Homo sapiens: one gene and its partners. The protein of the gene in region 4 interacts with the protein of the main gene of each other region in a pairwise test. Each region holds a gene or a part of one and is shown on either strand. Other genes may lie near its edges.

What was found.
Region 1: the proteins of SMCO4 (region 4) and SLC7A14 interact in binary tests that used the Homo sapiens proteins (3 or more experiments, as listed by UniProt).
Region 2: the proteins of SMCO4 (region 4) and TFEC interact in binary tests that used the Homo sapiens proteins (3 or more experiments, as listed by UniProt).
Region 3: the proteins of SMCO4 (region 4) and GKN1 interact in binary tests that used the Homo sapiens proteins (3 or more experiments, as listed by UniProt).

The regions. Positions count from the first base shown.
Region 1 is NC_000003.12:170,478,076-170,481,575, reverse strand, and holds part of SLC7A14 (solute carrier family 7 member 14), read left to right. Parts: intron 1-409; coding exon 410-1,287; intron 1,288-3,500. UniProt on the Homo sapiens protein: Imports 4-aminobutanoate (GABA) into lysosomes. May act as a GABA sensor that regulates mTORC2-dependent INS signaling and gluconeogenesis. The transport mechanism and substrate selectivity remain to be elucidated.
Region 2 is NC_000007.14:115,936,764-115,940,263, forward strand, and holds part of TFEC (transcription factor EC), read right to left. Parts: 3' UTR 1-3,500. UniProt on the Homo sapiens protein: Transcriptional regulator that acts as a repressor or an activator. Acts as a transcriptional repressor on minimal promoter containing element F (that includes an E-box sequence). Binds to element F in an E-box sequence-specific manner.
Region 3 is NC_000002.12:68,973,139-68,977,435, forward strand, and holds the start of GKN1 (gastrokine-1 precursor), read left to right. Parts: upstream 1-1,497; 5' UTR 1,498-1,539; coding exon 1,540-1,551; intron 1,552-4,297. UniProt on the Homo sapiens protein: Has mitogenic activity and may be involved in maintaining the integrity of the gastric mucosal epithelium.
Region 4 is NC_000011.10:93,533,392-93,536,891, reverse strand, and holds part of SMCO4 (single-pass membrane and coiled-coil domain-containing protein 4), read left to right. Parts: intron 1-3,500.

The sequences.
Region 1 (3,500 bases), on a different chromosome or scaffold from region 4:
ACAAAAATTAGCCGGGTGTAGTGGTGCATGCCTGTAATCCCAGCTACTCGGGAGGCTGAGGCAGGAGAATCACTTGAACCCAGGAGGTGGAGGTTGCAGTGAGCTGAGATCACGCCACTGCACTCCAGCCTGGGGGACAGAGTAAGCAGAGTGAGACACCATCTCACCAAAAAAAAAAAAAAAAAAGAAATCAAAGATTTAAAGTGAATTCTTTTTTAATTATATACCAAATCCTGGGGTAGGAATAGCAGCTGGATTTAAAGTAGTGAATGCAGAAGTAAATTGGTGGAGCAGGACCAGGAGGAGTTAATCACACCAGCCTATTGATAGTTCTAGCTCCCTATGTTGGCTGCACTGGAATCGGTCACTGTAGCTCACCATTAACCCTCTGCTTGCCCGGCCCCTCCAGGTTCCTGGCTCACGTCAGCTCCTACACAGAGACACCAGTGGTGGCCTGCATCGTGTCGGGGTTCCTGGCAGCGCTCCTCGCACTGTTGGTCAGCTTGAGAGACCTGATAGAGATGATGTCTATCGGCACGCTCCTGGCCTACACCTTGGTCTCTGTCTGTGTCTTGCTCCTTCGATACCAACCTGAGAGTGACATTGATGGTTTTGTCAAGTTCTTGTCTGAGGAGCACACCAAGAAGAAGGAGGGCATTCTGGCTGACTGTGAGAAGGAAGCTTGTTCTCCTGTGAGTGAGGGGGATGAGTTTTCTGGCCCAGCCACCAACACATGTGGGGCCAAGAACTTACCATCCTTGGGAGACAATGAGATGCTCATAGGGAAATCAGACAAGTCAACCTACAACGTCAACCACCCCAATTACGGCACCGTGGACATGACCACAGGCATAGAAGCTGATGAATCCGAAAATATTTATCTCATCAAGTTAAAGAAGCTGATTGGGCCTCATTATTACACCATGAGAATCCGGCTGGGCCTTCCAGGCAAAATGGACCGGCCCACAGCAGCGACGGGGCACACGGTGACCATCTGCGTGCTCCTGCTCTTCATCCTCATGTTCATCTTCTGCTCCTTCATCATCTTTGGTTCTGACTACATCTCAGAGCAGAGCTGGTGGGCCATCCTTCTGGTTGTTCTGATGGTGCTGCTGATCAGCACCCTGGTGTTTGTGATCCTGCAGCAGCCAGAGAACCCCAAGAAGCTGCCCTACATGGCCCCTTGCCTCCCCTTTGTGCCTGCCTTTGCCATGCTGGTGAACATCTATCTCATGCTAAAGCTCTCCACCATCACATGGATCCGGTTTGCGGTCTGGTGCTTTGTGGGTAAGCAACTTCCTTTGGAGCCTTAAGAGTTCCCTTTTAAGGTCTTAAGCATGCTTATCCCAAAATTACCTCCTAGCTGGACTAGGCAACTCCGTTCCCAGAGAAATCTGGCTGGTTCTATGGACCCTTGTGTTCCGCCTAAGAGTCAATAAAGCCAGTTGTCCCCTTTCTGCCTGTAATGTTCTTAGTCATTGGTTCTGGAAAAATGATGTTGATTAATCCATCGCTTTACTGAATTACTGAAAGTTCTTTCTATATCAGGATAATTAATACCAGAAAAAGTCCACTTAAAGTGAATCCACATTTTTAAGGTGACAAAAATAGCATAGTATAATTGGGGTCAGGGCATTTGGATGGAATTTTATCATAGAAACTAAGAATTGTAAAATGAAAAACTATCTTAGATTTCACAAAATTAAATTAAAATAGCAATTATGCTCTCATTTTTAAATGAACAAGGTGTGAATTAAGTGTGGATTTTTTGGCATAATTTTTCTGACAAAATTGAATCATGGCATCATTTAACATCTCTCACTTCATACTGACTTTTGTAAAATATTCAAAAGTTTTTCATATTTCCCAAGGTCCTTTCTTCATTCATTGACATTCCAATCATTCACTTGGGAAGTACCCATCATGCCACCATCCTTACTGATTTTCTCTCTCCTGCTGGTAATAACTAATATGACTCTGTTAGGTCCTCAATTGTCTACAATTTTGGGTGTGAATTCAAATTGTTCTCTAAACTCACTTTCACGGACTTCAAGAAGTCCTGTACCTTCTCTAAGATTTCTAATTTTACTTTGTGATCCATTTCTATTGTATTTGCAGTACTTGCTTATCATCTAGGACAATCTCTGATGTTCATGAGGTGGCTGGGGATTGATGCTAGTAAGAACTTGAGAAGTGTAATGGAAGACTCATTTTAAAGTTCCTTAGTCACTATTTGTATGTCCTCTGAACAACTTGGTAACCCTGGGGTCTCTGATAACAAATTCTTAGCTAAAGAGGATCTTTAGAAGCTCTGGGGAATAGAAGAGTAAACCCTGCCTAAAGGAGAGGCAAGACAAACACACGAGTCACTTAGCCCAAGAGAGGCCAAAGAGACTCTTTTTGTTGTTGTTGTTGTTGTTGTTATTTGTTTGTTTTGTTTTGTTTGTTGTTGTTGAGATGGAGTCTTGCTGTGTCGCCCAGGCTGGAGTGCAGTGGCTTGATCATGGCCCACTGCAACCTCCGCCAACCAGGTTCAAGCAATTCTCCTGCCTCAGCCTCCTGAGTAGCTGATATTACAGGTGAGTGCCACCATGCCCTGCTAATTTTTGTGTTTTTAGTAGAGATAGGGTTTCACCATGTTGGCCAGGCTGTTCTCGAACTCTCAACCTCATGATCTGCCCACCTCAGCCTCCCAAAGTGCTGGGATTACAGGCATGAGCCACTGTGCCCAGCCCACAGAGACTCTTAGTGATGAGTGGCAGTGCATCCACTCCTAGAGATCAGGAATACACTTGTTCAACATGTGTCCTCCGTGTCTGGAGCAGGGTGCCCGCAGTATGTGCTCAAAAATACTTCTTAAATTATTATAAAGTACTCTTCAAAGGGGAAAAAGGAAAACTTCCAGTCAGAATTGCCAGAAAAAACTTGGAGGGGGTAGAATACAAAGTGGCCCTATAAGTTAAGATATAGATAGAAAGAAGTGGGGGAAAAAGTAGCAACCAATGGAAAGGGCATATGTCTTCCCCAGAGGCCTGACTCCTTGCTTCTGAAGGCTGCTCTATGGCTTCCTGTAAGCATTTTGTCCCAATTTTTCACTATTCTAAGTCCCCCTGGTTAGACTTCAGGAGGATTTCTTGAGAGGACCCCACTGACTCATCAAGATTTTAACCAATTTTTATAACACATTTACAATCTCTTGGCTGGGCATAGTGGCTCACGTCTATAATCCCAGCACTTTGGGAGGCCGAGGAGGGCAGATCACCTGAGTTTAGGAGTTCGAGACTAGCCTGGCCTACATGGCAAAACCCCATCTCTATAAAAAATGCAAAAATTAGCCAGGCGTGGTGGCAAGTGCCTGTAATCCCAGCTACTTGGGAGGATGAGACAGGAAAATTGCTTGAACCCAGGAAATGGAGGTTGCAGTGAGCTGAGATCACACCACTGCACTCTAGCCTGGGAGACAGAGCAAGACTCCATTTCAAAAAATTTTTTTAAAAAAA
Region 2 (3,500 bases), on a different chromosome or scaffold from region 4:
TAAGTAAGAGCTATTAAATATTTGATTTACAGTCATGTAGGTGGGAAAAAAATGAGTTGAAAAAGGAAGAGGAAGGCTATTTCTCAATGTCCCCAGCTCATCTGGCTATTTATTATTTAGGGCTTTTTTAAAAACCTATATAAAGAAAGCCATGGTCACTGATATGCCTATAAACTGAGAAAATACCATCTGTACATATATTCTCCATTTGATATAGGAAAAATTCAAGAAGAAAAGGCACTAAAGAAAAAAATTGTAAAGAGCTGTATCTACTCACAGGAGGTCATCATTATTTTAAGACAATTGGAAGTTGGAAAGGGCTGTTTAATGTGAATCCAAGAAAAAGCAGCCAATATTTAATAATATAAAAAATGATTGGATGGGATATTTTGTTGAAAAAAGAATGAAAAACAATAAAATTATTGTATCTTACTTTAAAGGAAGTTTTATTATAATTGTAATTATGAATTAAATCTTTAAATGAAAAGGGATAATTGTATATTAATTGAATGAATAAATCAATAATTATGCATTAATAGTCCCATTACAGTTGATGCTTTTTGTGACAGCATTGTTTGATAAACATATGCCTCTTTTACTATTATGAAAAATCTCATTTCTGCAAGAAATATTCTAGAGAGTCAAATTTTTCTAGAAGTCTATCTTGTTTCTTAGATACTCAAATAATTTGCTTTTAAATTCACACTATTTTTGTTTGGAAATTTATTTGCATCATTTCAAAATGTTATGGTCAGATGTTTATAACACTCAGTAATTATAGTGAAACTGACCCATATATAATAAATAGAAGGCATAGTTTGCTGAGTGGGGAGGACATGTTTGATAAACGACTACTTCATAAATGAACAACTTTTTTAGTGAATAATCTAAAGTTTGGTACACTATTACTTTCCTATGCAACCTCATCATTATTAGGATTGGGATAATTATATTTAGATAAGTAAGGGTCCCCCCATTGTTATACATGACATTAACCGCACACCTAAGAGACCTGATTCAGGAATTTTTCACTTGGGATCCAAGAAAACATTCAGGAGATCCCTAAGATCTCTGAATGCATGTGAATTATTGTCCATATAAACAGTTCTATACTTTTCTAGGGAGAGGGTCTATAACTCACTAGATTCTCAAGGTATCTGCCTTAAAAAGTTAAGAACTACCATCTAATTAATTTTTAATGTATTTCAGTTGACCGGGACACAGCATAACTCTTTACTCTCTTTAAAAATTCATTACCCTTTTTACAGTTCCCTGACATCTCATAATCTGAATGTAGCAGCAAATAGCAGTTCCCTCTCCAGATCTCTTGTGTCCAGGCTCTATCATCCTGTGCCAAGTCCTTATCTCAGCCAAGATTGTGAAGGATAGATTTCAAGGCCCAGTAGTTGTACCTTAACAGAACAGAAAATAATGACTGAGTAATGACATCATCAGTGCAAGTCTACTCAAAATATGAAGAAATGAGAAGAGCAGATAAAATGAGAACTGAAGCCAGTCTCTATCTAATAAAGTGGTGTGTTTTCTATGAACTCCAAAATATATTCCTTATCTATAATTTTTAACATTTAATCAAATTATCAACTCAGATAATGAAGTGGAATTTTGTTATAAAATTAAAAGTATGTAATATCGTCTTGAAAATTATTGAGAAGATGTATCTAATAGCTGTTTCACATGGCATATTTCAGATGAATTTATCTATCAGGCTTTAATGACTGTACCCAGAAGTTAGTAATTATTTTTCCATGTCAAACAATAAAATTATTTTAATTCTCCAAATTCTGAGCAAATGATACAAGCTAAGCCTGAGATAATTATTATACCATAATGATTTACTATTTTTCTACTTTTATCAGCATTAGGGTCTCACATTTCATAGTGACATATTTTCCATGTGAGAAGCAACTAAAAGATCCTTTCAAAATTTATCCCAAAGCTTAATATTCATGAAAGATTACATCTCACTCATTAGTAATATATATTTTAGTTTTTAGCATCCTCCCTGCTACTAAAAAGATTTGTTTCTATTATATTAATACTATATTATTTCACCATAGTTTTCTAAGGGCCTTCACAACCTGTTGTCAGTCTTATGCTTCAGAACTCCCCAACAGACATCTTCTAGGGCATCCAGATCTTTCTAATTAAAGTCCTATAAAGATACTTCCCCTATTATTCTCACTTTTATCATTTGGTTGGTATTATTCCTTTATATGCCCTCACTTTCACTCAATTAATGCCTTTCAAAGAGAAGTCAAATTCTGCTGTTCCCATAAAGTTTGTCAGTCATTTTCATTTTCTCTGACCTTCTGTATTTACAGTTTATGCTTAGATTTTTTATTCTATATGTCTTCTATCTTTTGTTTTTGTTTTTCATGCATTCTCATTAACTACCTTAGGAGTAAGACCATATCTTTTTCAACTCTTCTACATTTTCTCAGGACTCACTGCAGTTCTGAGTATGCCTCCATGAATACTCATTGATCGGATGATCACTCTTGGAGGTCCAGCACAGAGCAACGTGCTTGGTAACTTAATTTCCTAACCTAAAACAAGCGCAAGAGATAAAAATCTAAATGAAGCATCATAGTTATAAGTGCTTATAATAAATGCTAACAGTGCAACCAAAGATCATAGGACACTCTAAGTGTTTATAGAAATAGAACCTTACGTTCCTCTCAGAACTGAAAATAATAAGAAATAGTTTGTTGTAATAATTATTTTGTCAATTGGCAATTCAATTTTCAATATTTTATCCATTTGGAGAAAAACCAAATCAACAACTAATTGATTTCTGTCCAATACTGATGAAAAGTTTTAAGTACCTGAAAACTGTCCTTGCAGGGGGACATTTTATATTTTATTTACTAAAATTGATGATCTGACATCTCTTCTTCATAAGAAAAGAGAATTTGGAATGTGATTCTGATGCAGTCAGAAGCATGAAGAAAACAAAAGAACATATACTACCTGAATGATGTGCATATGTGTATGTGTATGTTTGTGTGAAGGGATACAATTCTGGTCCATATTCCTGAGGAAAATATTCAATATGTTCCTTTTCCTGAACAGAGACTGGAGATATAAATATGCATGGATGCTTTTAGAATTAGTGTAATTGAACCAACTACAATAAAATGAGGATCTAATTTTAGTAACCAATGTTTTTATAAGTTATCCATATTTTATTGTGGAAAATTCTCACATTTATTGTAGATTTGCCTTTCAACCACAAGTGACAGATAATCTATTATACATTTATTTATCCTATAAAGTTTGAACTTTAGACATGTCTACTAGACAATGGAGAAAGGCAATGACCACCTGATATGTTGATCTTGATTCCGGAAGACTGATGTGAAAGTTGAAGAGAAGATGGAAATGAGTAACTAAGAGACTGTTTGTATATTTCAGTCGTTTAACACTTTGCAGTCATTAGTTCCAGTAGTACACCACCAAGTTGCTGCTTTTAAAACATC
Region 3 (4,297 bases), on a different chromosome or scaffold from region 4:
ACTGCAGCTGTTCTAATCCACTCCTACCAACAGTTTTGAAGAGATGTTGATAGCGAATCAAGCTTTATAACCATGTGATCCCATCTTATGGTTTCAATCCATGCACAGGAGGAAAATTGTGGGCACGAAGTTTCCAAAGGGAAAATTTATAGATTGGTAGTTAATGAAATACAGTTTTCCTCCTTGGCAAATTTAATTTACTAGCTTCACTGTATAGGAAAAAGCAGGAAAAAAATTAAAACCAACTCACCTCCAAACCTGTTTTGAGCTTTTACTTGTCTGCCCAATTGATAGTTTCTACTCTCTGCTTTTGATGAAAATATTTTTTATTATTTTAATGTAACTTCTGAAAACTAAATTATCTAGAAGCAAATAAAAAGATATTGCTTTTATAGTTCCCAGAAGGAAAAAACAAACACTAGGAAAGTTCTATCTATCAGATGGGGGAGATGTGATGGAGGCAGTGATATTTGAGCTGAGCCTTGAACAATGAACAGGAGTCTACCAAGCGAGAGGCTAGCGGGTGGCCCTCCAAGATAAAACAACAGCATGTACAAAGGCATGGAGACATACACATCTTGACTTTTCCAGGAATGGTGGGAACGCTGGTGGAGCTAGAATGTAGGTACATAGCATAAAGTGGCAGACGGGAAGCCTTTGGAAATCTTATTACATAGGACCCTGGATGCCATTCCAATGACTTTGAATTTTCTGTAGGCTGCCAGCGAAATTTCCAAGCGTGATAGAGTCATGTCTATCTATGCACTTCAGAAAGACAACCTCAGGGTTAATGAAGAAAATGCATTGGAATATAAGAAACTGGTGACCAGAGTGATCAATTGCATGACTGTTGTGAAAGTCCAGGTGAGGGGAGCTGTGGGCAAGGTCAGAGTTGAGAGGCATTTCAGAGATAAAATGACAGTAACTAAGTAGATGTCAGACTGAGAAGAAAGGGCTGTACCAGATATATGGTGCTATCATTAAGTGAGCTCAACATTGCAGAAAAGGGGTAGGTTTGGTGGGAGTTGCTCACAAAACATGTTTAGTCTAAGCAAAACCATTGCCATGGGCTCAGATAAAAGTTAAGAAGTGGAAACCATTCCTACATTCCTATAGGAGCTGCTATCTGGAAGGCCTAGTATACACGTGGCTTTTCAGCTGTGATTTTGTTTGATTTTAGGGATTATTCTTTTTCTGAATCTGAGCAATGTTAGCGTGTAAAATACTCACGCCCACAGCTTTGACTGGGTGAGAAGTTATCATAAATCATATTGAGTTTGTTGTGATACCTTCAGCTTCAACAAGTGATGAGTCAGGTCAACTCCATGTGAAAGTTCCTTGCTAAGCATGCAGATATTCTGAAAGGTTTCCTGGTACACTGGCTCATGGCACAGATAGGAGAAATTGAGGAAGGTAAGTCTTTGACCCCACCTGATAACACCTAGTTTGAGTCAACCTGGTTAAGTACAAATATGAGAAGGCTTCTCATTCAGGTCCATGCTTGCCTACTCCTCTGTCCACTGCTTTCGTGAAGACAAGATGAAGTTCACAGTGAGTAGATTTTTCCTTTTGAATTTACCACCAAATGATTGGAGACTGTCAATATTCTGAGATTTAGGAGGTCTGCTTCTTATGGCCCCATCATGGAAAATTTGTTTTAAAAAAATTCTCTCTTCAAACACATGGACACAGAGAGGGGAACAACACACACTAGGTCCTGTTGGGGGGTGGAGAGTGAGGGGAGGGAACTTAGAGGACAGGTCAATAGGGGCAGCAAACCACCATGGCACACATATACCTATGTAACAAACCTGCACGTTCTGCACATGTATCCCTTTTTTTTAGAAGAAGAAATAATGAAAAAAAATCTTTTTTCTATTTATATAATCATGGCATTTATAAGCATCTCTATAGAGAAGGATAATTGTGCTGAGATTAGACAGCTGTCTGAGCACCTCACACTGACCTATTTTTAACAAAATGACTTTCCGCATCACCTGATTCCGGTCTCCATGCAGGGTAAGCAGTTCCTAAGCCCTAGAAAGTGCCGATCATCCCTCATTCTTGAATTCCTCCTTTTATTTACCAAAATTCCTGAGCATGTTCAGGAAAGATGAAAAGCTTATTATCAAAATAAGTGGCTGAGATAGACTTCTTGTCACATTTGTTACAGTAAAATGGGTCTCCAAGAAAGAAAGATTTGCCTTGGGCTCTAGCATGGCCATTTATTTAAGAAAGCATCTGAAACATGAAGCTACCACAGCATCTCTCCTGTGGTTCCAGACAGAAGCCTGAGAGTCTAGGAGGAGGTGGACCGAGAAACCCTGCCAAAGTAACTAGTAGTGCCGGGTTTCTCACAACACGATGCAAAGGGGCTAGAATCAGATGACTATTTTCATGTTTCAACATACTACACACTGGAAAACGTTACGGCAGACTCTACTTTATAATGGGGCTGCAAATGTAAAATGACTACCTAGAACTAGGTCCTCTTAATAGCAGCAAAGTTTAAAAGGGTCAGAGGGAGCTCCAGACACAGGTTAGATTTGATTTCTCTCCTAGTTCTGCTGTGAACAAGAGGTATAAGTTTGGCCAACTCACTTAACCCCTGAAGCTCAGTTACCTTATCTGTAAAATGATTGCATTGTACTAGGTGTTCTCTAAAATTTCTTCTACCTCTGACTTTTTAGGAGACTAATTTTTAACTCCTTTTTAAGCTATTGGGAGAAAAATTTAATTTTTTTTCAAAAGTTACCTTGAATCTCTAGAGCAGTTCTCAAAACTATTTTGTCCCAGGCAAAGGAAATGAGACTAGGTACCCAGAATGAGGCACCCTGCATAAAGCTCTGTGCTCTGAAAACCAATGTCAGGGACCCTGTGATAAATAATTAAACCAAGTATCCTGGGACACTGCTAGTGACATCGCCTCTGCTGATCACTCTTGCCAGCGAGACACTCTATACTTGCTTTCTCATCATTGGCATCCAAACTGCCTACTAATCCATTGCTTTGGAAAGTTTTTTTTAATAAAAAGATTATTTCTATTAGGAAGAAAACATCCCATGTTAAATAGGAAAATTAACTGAAATCATTTTCAGATGTGATTTTTAGCACTTATAGCCATCTCAAACCATAGTATTCATTTATACTATGCTATTTATTGTAAAACTTCTTTTTTTTTCCAAGGAAAATAAGATAGTTTGCTTTATTTTAAAACAGTAACTTTCTTATATTGGGGCACTGACCAAAATTCAATACTGGTACAAATATGTTACCTAGGAGGTCAAAATATGTGCCAGGTGAATTTTCTGAATTTCTCTAAAGAGAGAATTTTAAACCTTATAAAACAATTAGAAACAAGTGAGTGAGAGGTGAGCATCAACAACCTGTGTAACATAAGCCACAGTACAAATTTAAGCTGAATAACCAAGCCATGTCAGTTATCCCAAATCATTTTTGTTAATATTTAGGAGGATACACATATTTTCAATAACTTAAAAGTGAATCTTTACTCCTATCTCTTAATACTCGAAGAAGTATAACTTTCTTCTTTTACTAGATTTAAATAATCCAAATATCTACTCAAGGTAGGATGCTGTCATTAACTATAGCTGAGTTTATCCAAAATAGAAAAATCATGAAGATTTATAAAGCATTTTAAAAATAATCATTTATAGCAAGTCCTTGAAAGCTCTAAATAAGAAAGGCAGTTCTCTACTTTCTAATAACACCTATGGTTTATATTACATAATATAATTCAACAAAACAGCATTCTGACCAATGATAATTTATAGGAAATTCATTTGCCAAGTATATGTTTTATTATAAAGTTAATATTTTGACCAATCTTAAAAATTTTTAAACTCTATTCTGACATTTCCAGAAGTATTATCTTAGCAAAGTCATCTTTATGATACCACTTATTAAACTGAAGAGAAACAAGATGGTACATTCTGGGTTTTACTTTAAAAGGGATTTGATTCAATAATTTGATTTATCACTACTTGAAAATTACATTTTCTTCCTCAGTACTGGATGGCAATGAGATGAAAGCAGCTTTCCTGGCTCTCAACTTCCCTTCTTCATCAATTTTTCCAGCGTTTCATAAGGCCTACACTAAAAATTCTAAAACTATATATCACATTAATATAATTACTTATAATTAATCAGCAATTTCACATTATCGTTAAAACCTTTATGGTTAAAAAATGCAAGGTAAGAGAAGAAAAAAACACATTGAACTAGAACTGAACACATTGGTAAAATTAGTGAATACTTTTCATAAGCTTGGATAGAG
Region 4 (3,500 bases):
AGTGCAGCATAGAAACCTGTTCAAATTGGTGCAGCAATTTCACATCAGCATAAGTAGCTTGTTTTGGTGGTGGTGGTTTTTTAATCAGTTTAGGTGCTTTTTTTCTGAAATCATATAGGTAATATGTAAATGTATTCTCCTGCAGCCTGCCCTTGCATTTAAATAGTGCAGAAGGACACAGCAGACTTGTCACATTCCCCTTCACCCAGCACCCCTCCCCAGGTGCCAGCTCCTCCAGGTCCTCAGAGATAACTGGTGTTAGCAGTTGGATCCGTGTCCTGAAACTGTCAAGCCTGTATACACAAATACACTATGGTTTTCCTTCTTTTAGAAGCATGAATCTGATTGCATCATACTGCTTTTTTCACATAGTATATTTTCGAGAGCTTTTCATGCATGTAGCTCTTCTCTGTTCTTTTAATTTGTCTTTTATTTGCCTACAAAATATTTTCCAGTGTAGTTATGTCATAATTTATGAATTGGTCCCCTACTGGTAGACATATAAACTAACTCATTAGTTTTGCTATTATATCTTCATTCATACATATTAGTATGCACATGTTTCTCTAGGAGTAGAATTGGCATGTCAAATGTTAAATTCATTTAAAATGTTGCAGCAGTACCCATACTATGCTCTCAAGAGATGTGCTAGTTCCTGTTGTCAGTGGTAATGGGCTGCCATTCCCCTGGGTGAAAGAAATGGATCATTGTTCAGTAGGCATTTCATTTATTATTGGTGAGGTTGCAAACCTCATCATTTGGCTTCTTTTTTTTTTCTTGATAAACAGACATGTTTAATGATAGCTTGCTCTTCACAGAGATGTCTACGGAGACTTTTTATCTATAATCCAGGAGTATATAACCATGCAGCACAGACCAATTAGCCAAATGCAAAATAAACTAGATTCTTACCACAACTATCCTATAAACACTGCAACTATTCTTTCCAAAAAGACCCTAATCTTATGTGAAAACACCTACTGTGGGGGAACCAGAAACCTAGCTATGTGGCCAAAAGGAAAAAATAGCAATTCAGTGGTTAATTGGTGAAAGCAGGAAATGTATGTCCTTTACTGTGCTGCTGTTGCTGCTGCTGCTGCTGCTTTGGTCTTCTTAGTTTTGTTCTTTTTGTCTCTCTTCTTCAGCCCATCCATGTTAGCTCTCAGGAGGTTTGAATAAGCCATCTGAAACTTATTCACTTCCTCGGAGCTCACCACTGTGCTGATCTTCTTTTTCCCATCGGTAGCTCTTAACAGACACTTGTTGTCTGCAGGCTCAAAGCCCTCCACAGTACCTTTCTTTGGAATGGATTTGGTTCGACTGTCATACTTCTTCAAGGTGATATGATGCTGCCTGATGTCCAGCACTTCTGGAAAAGTCTGGTCAGCTCCGTCAGGAGCTGCTCGCTCTCCAACAACACCATCGCGGCGACTCTGGCTCGACTCCCTCTGCTTAAGCCCCTAGCAGTGAGAACTGGTTATTTGGCTTCTTGATTCTTATTGCTGAGATCGTAGATGTTAAGAGTGGTGGGTCCATAGCAACTATAGAAGATGAGGGAACCAAACCCTCAAGGACCATGGCTCAGCTCAGGGTGGTGTAAGCGTCATGCCACCAGTGGTGGCATTGTGGTACCTGGAAGCAAGAGCTCCTGATTTCACATTCTCTGTTTCTCCCGGATGCTAGTTATGGTAATAGGACATTTTAATTTTGGTGTAACTTGCCAGAGTATTTCTCCAAACCTTTCATCTGAGGAATCAAGGGTCCGTAAGTATTAAGATCAGTCTGTCCTGTGCTGCTGAGGCGTGGATTGGAGACTGGGGAGGGGCACTGGGAAGACACTTAAAGATTGCGTGCTGGAAAATCAGGCACTGTTGCTTCTGGAAAAGCCTCCAGGAATGTGGTAAAGCAGATGTTTTCTTCTAGTTGCATGTGATTATTCCCCCTCTCCTGGCTTGCTATGGGAATATTGTGGTGCTTTGACCCTTAGCAGGATGCTCTGGGGAGAAGCGATGACTTCTTAGAAGGTGTTTGAGGGGTGTGACACAATGGGCTGGCAGAGAAGGCGTCTGGTGGCTTCCATGAATGGGCTGATCTCGGGGCCCTCCCTGCAGGCTGGGCTGTCCAGTGGACACAGTGGGCTTCGGAAAGCCCTGGCTTACTGGACCACAGAGTCCTTTACCTATTGCTCAAAGGGGCAGAGAGCAGGAGTGGTGGAGGGGGAACCCTTGGGAGATGAAGGGACTGCAGAGTTGAGCCACACTGGACCCAGCTCCCATTCAGCACCTTATGGGTGTGTGCCTTGAGCAGCTATTTTATCTCCCTGGGCCTCAGCTTTTCCCTGTAAGTTAGGAATAATAATTAGTACCTGCCTCACAGGGTTGTTGTGAAGATTAAAAGAATAATGTTTATAAATCTCTCAGCATATTACCTAATTAGTACTTGGTAATTGTAAGTAACTCCACCTATTTGTGTTCCCTTTTCCATATATATATGTATCTCTCTCTCTCTCTCTCTCTATATATATATATATATATGTATGTGTATATATATGTGTATATATGTATATGTGTATATATGTGTATATATGTATATATATGTGTGTGTGTATATATGTATATATATATGTGTTTGTGTGTGTGTGTGTGTGTGTGTGTGTGTGTGTGTGTGTGTGTGTGTATATATATATTTTTTTTTTTTTTTTGAGACGGAGTCTCATTTTGTCGCCCAGGCTGGAGTGCTGTGCCGCGATCTTAGCTCATTTCAACCTCTGCCTCCCAGGTTCAAGCAATTCTCCTGCCTCAGCCTCCCTAGTAGCTGGAATTACAGGTGTGCGCCACCACGCCTGGCTAATTTTTGTATTTTTAGTAGAGATGGGGTTTCACTGTGTTTGTTGGCCAGGCTGGTCTTGAACCCTGGACTTAAAGTGATCTGCCCACCTTGGCCTCCACAAGTGTTGGGATTACAGGCGTGAGCTACCACACCTGGCTAATAACTGTTTTAAAATGAGTGACTACATATCATATTTGCATATTACATAAGTAGACTTAATCTGGTAACATTAAAGAGAAGAGGTCAGGAGATTAGTAGCTGTCGGGGCAGATGAGGGTGGGGGCTATGGGAATTAAAAGGGATGAAGGTGGGAGGCTTCGGTGGAGGCCTTAGGTGGGGCAGGAGAGTTGAGTTGGGATGTTCTCTTCCAATACCATTGCTCCTGCAGAATCCCCTCCTTTGTGCACATCAGAGCCCCACACGCAGAGGCCTTTTCTCTTTTTTTAGATAGACTGAGGGTTAGGGGATTGCTAGTGCAACCTCTACCCTTTATTTCGAGGTGGCTGAGTGGGGCCCTGAAAGCCAAAGTGTCTGCCTCAAGCTACACAGATGGCCAGGACAGAGCACAAGTAGGCCCAGCTCTCTGTGCTCTGGGGAGTTGAGATTTCTTTCCCTTCTTCCCTGCACTGCCATGTGTTGCTTATAGCCAGATGCAGGAAAGAGACATGGTG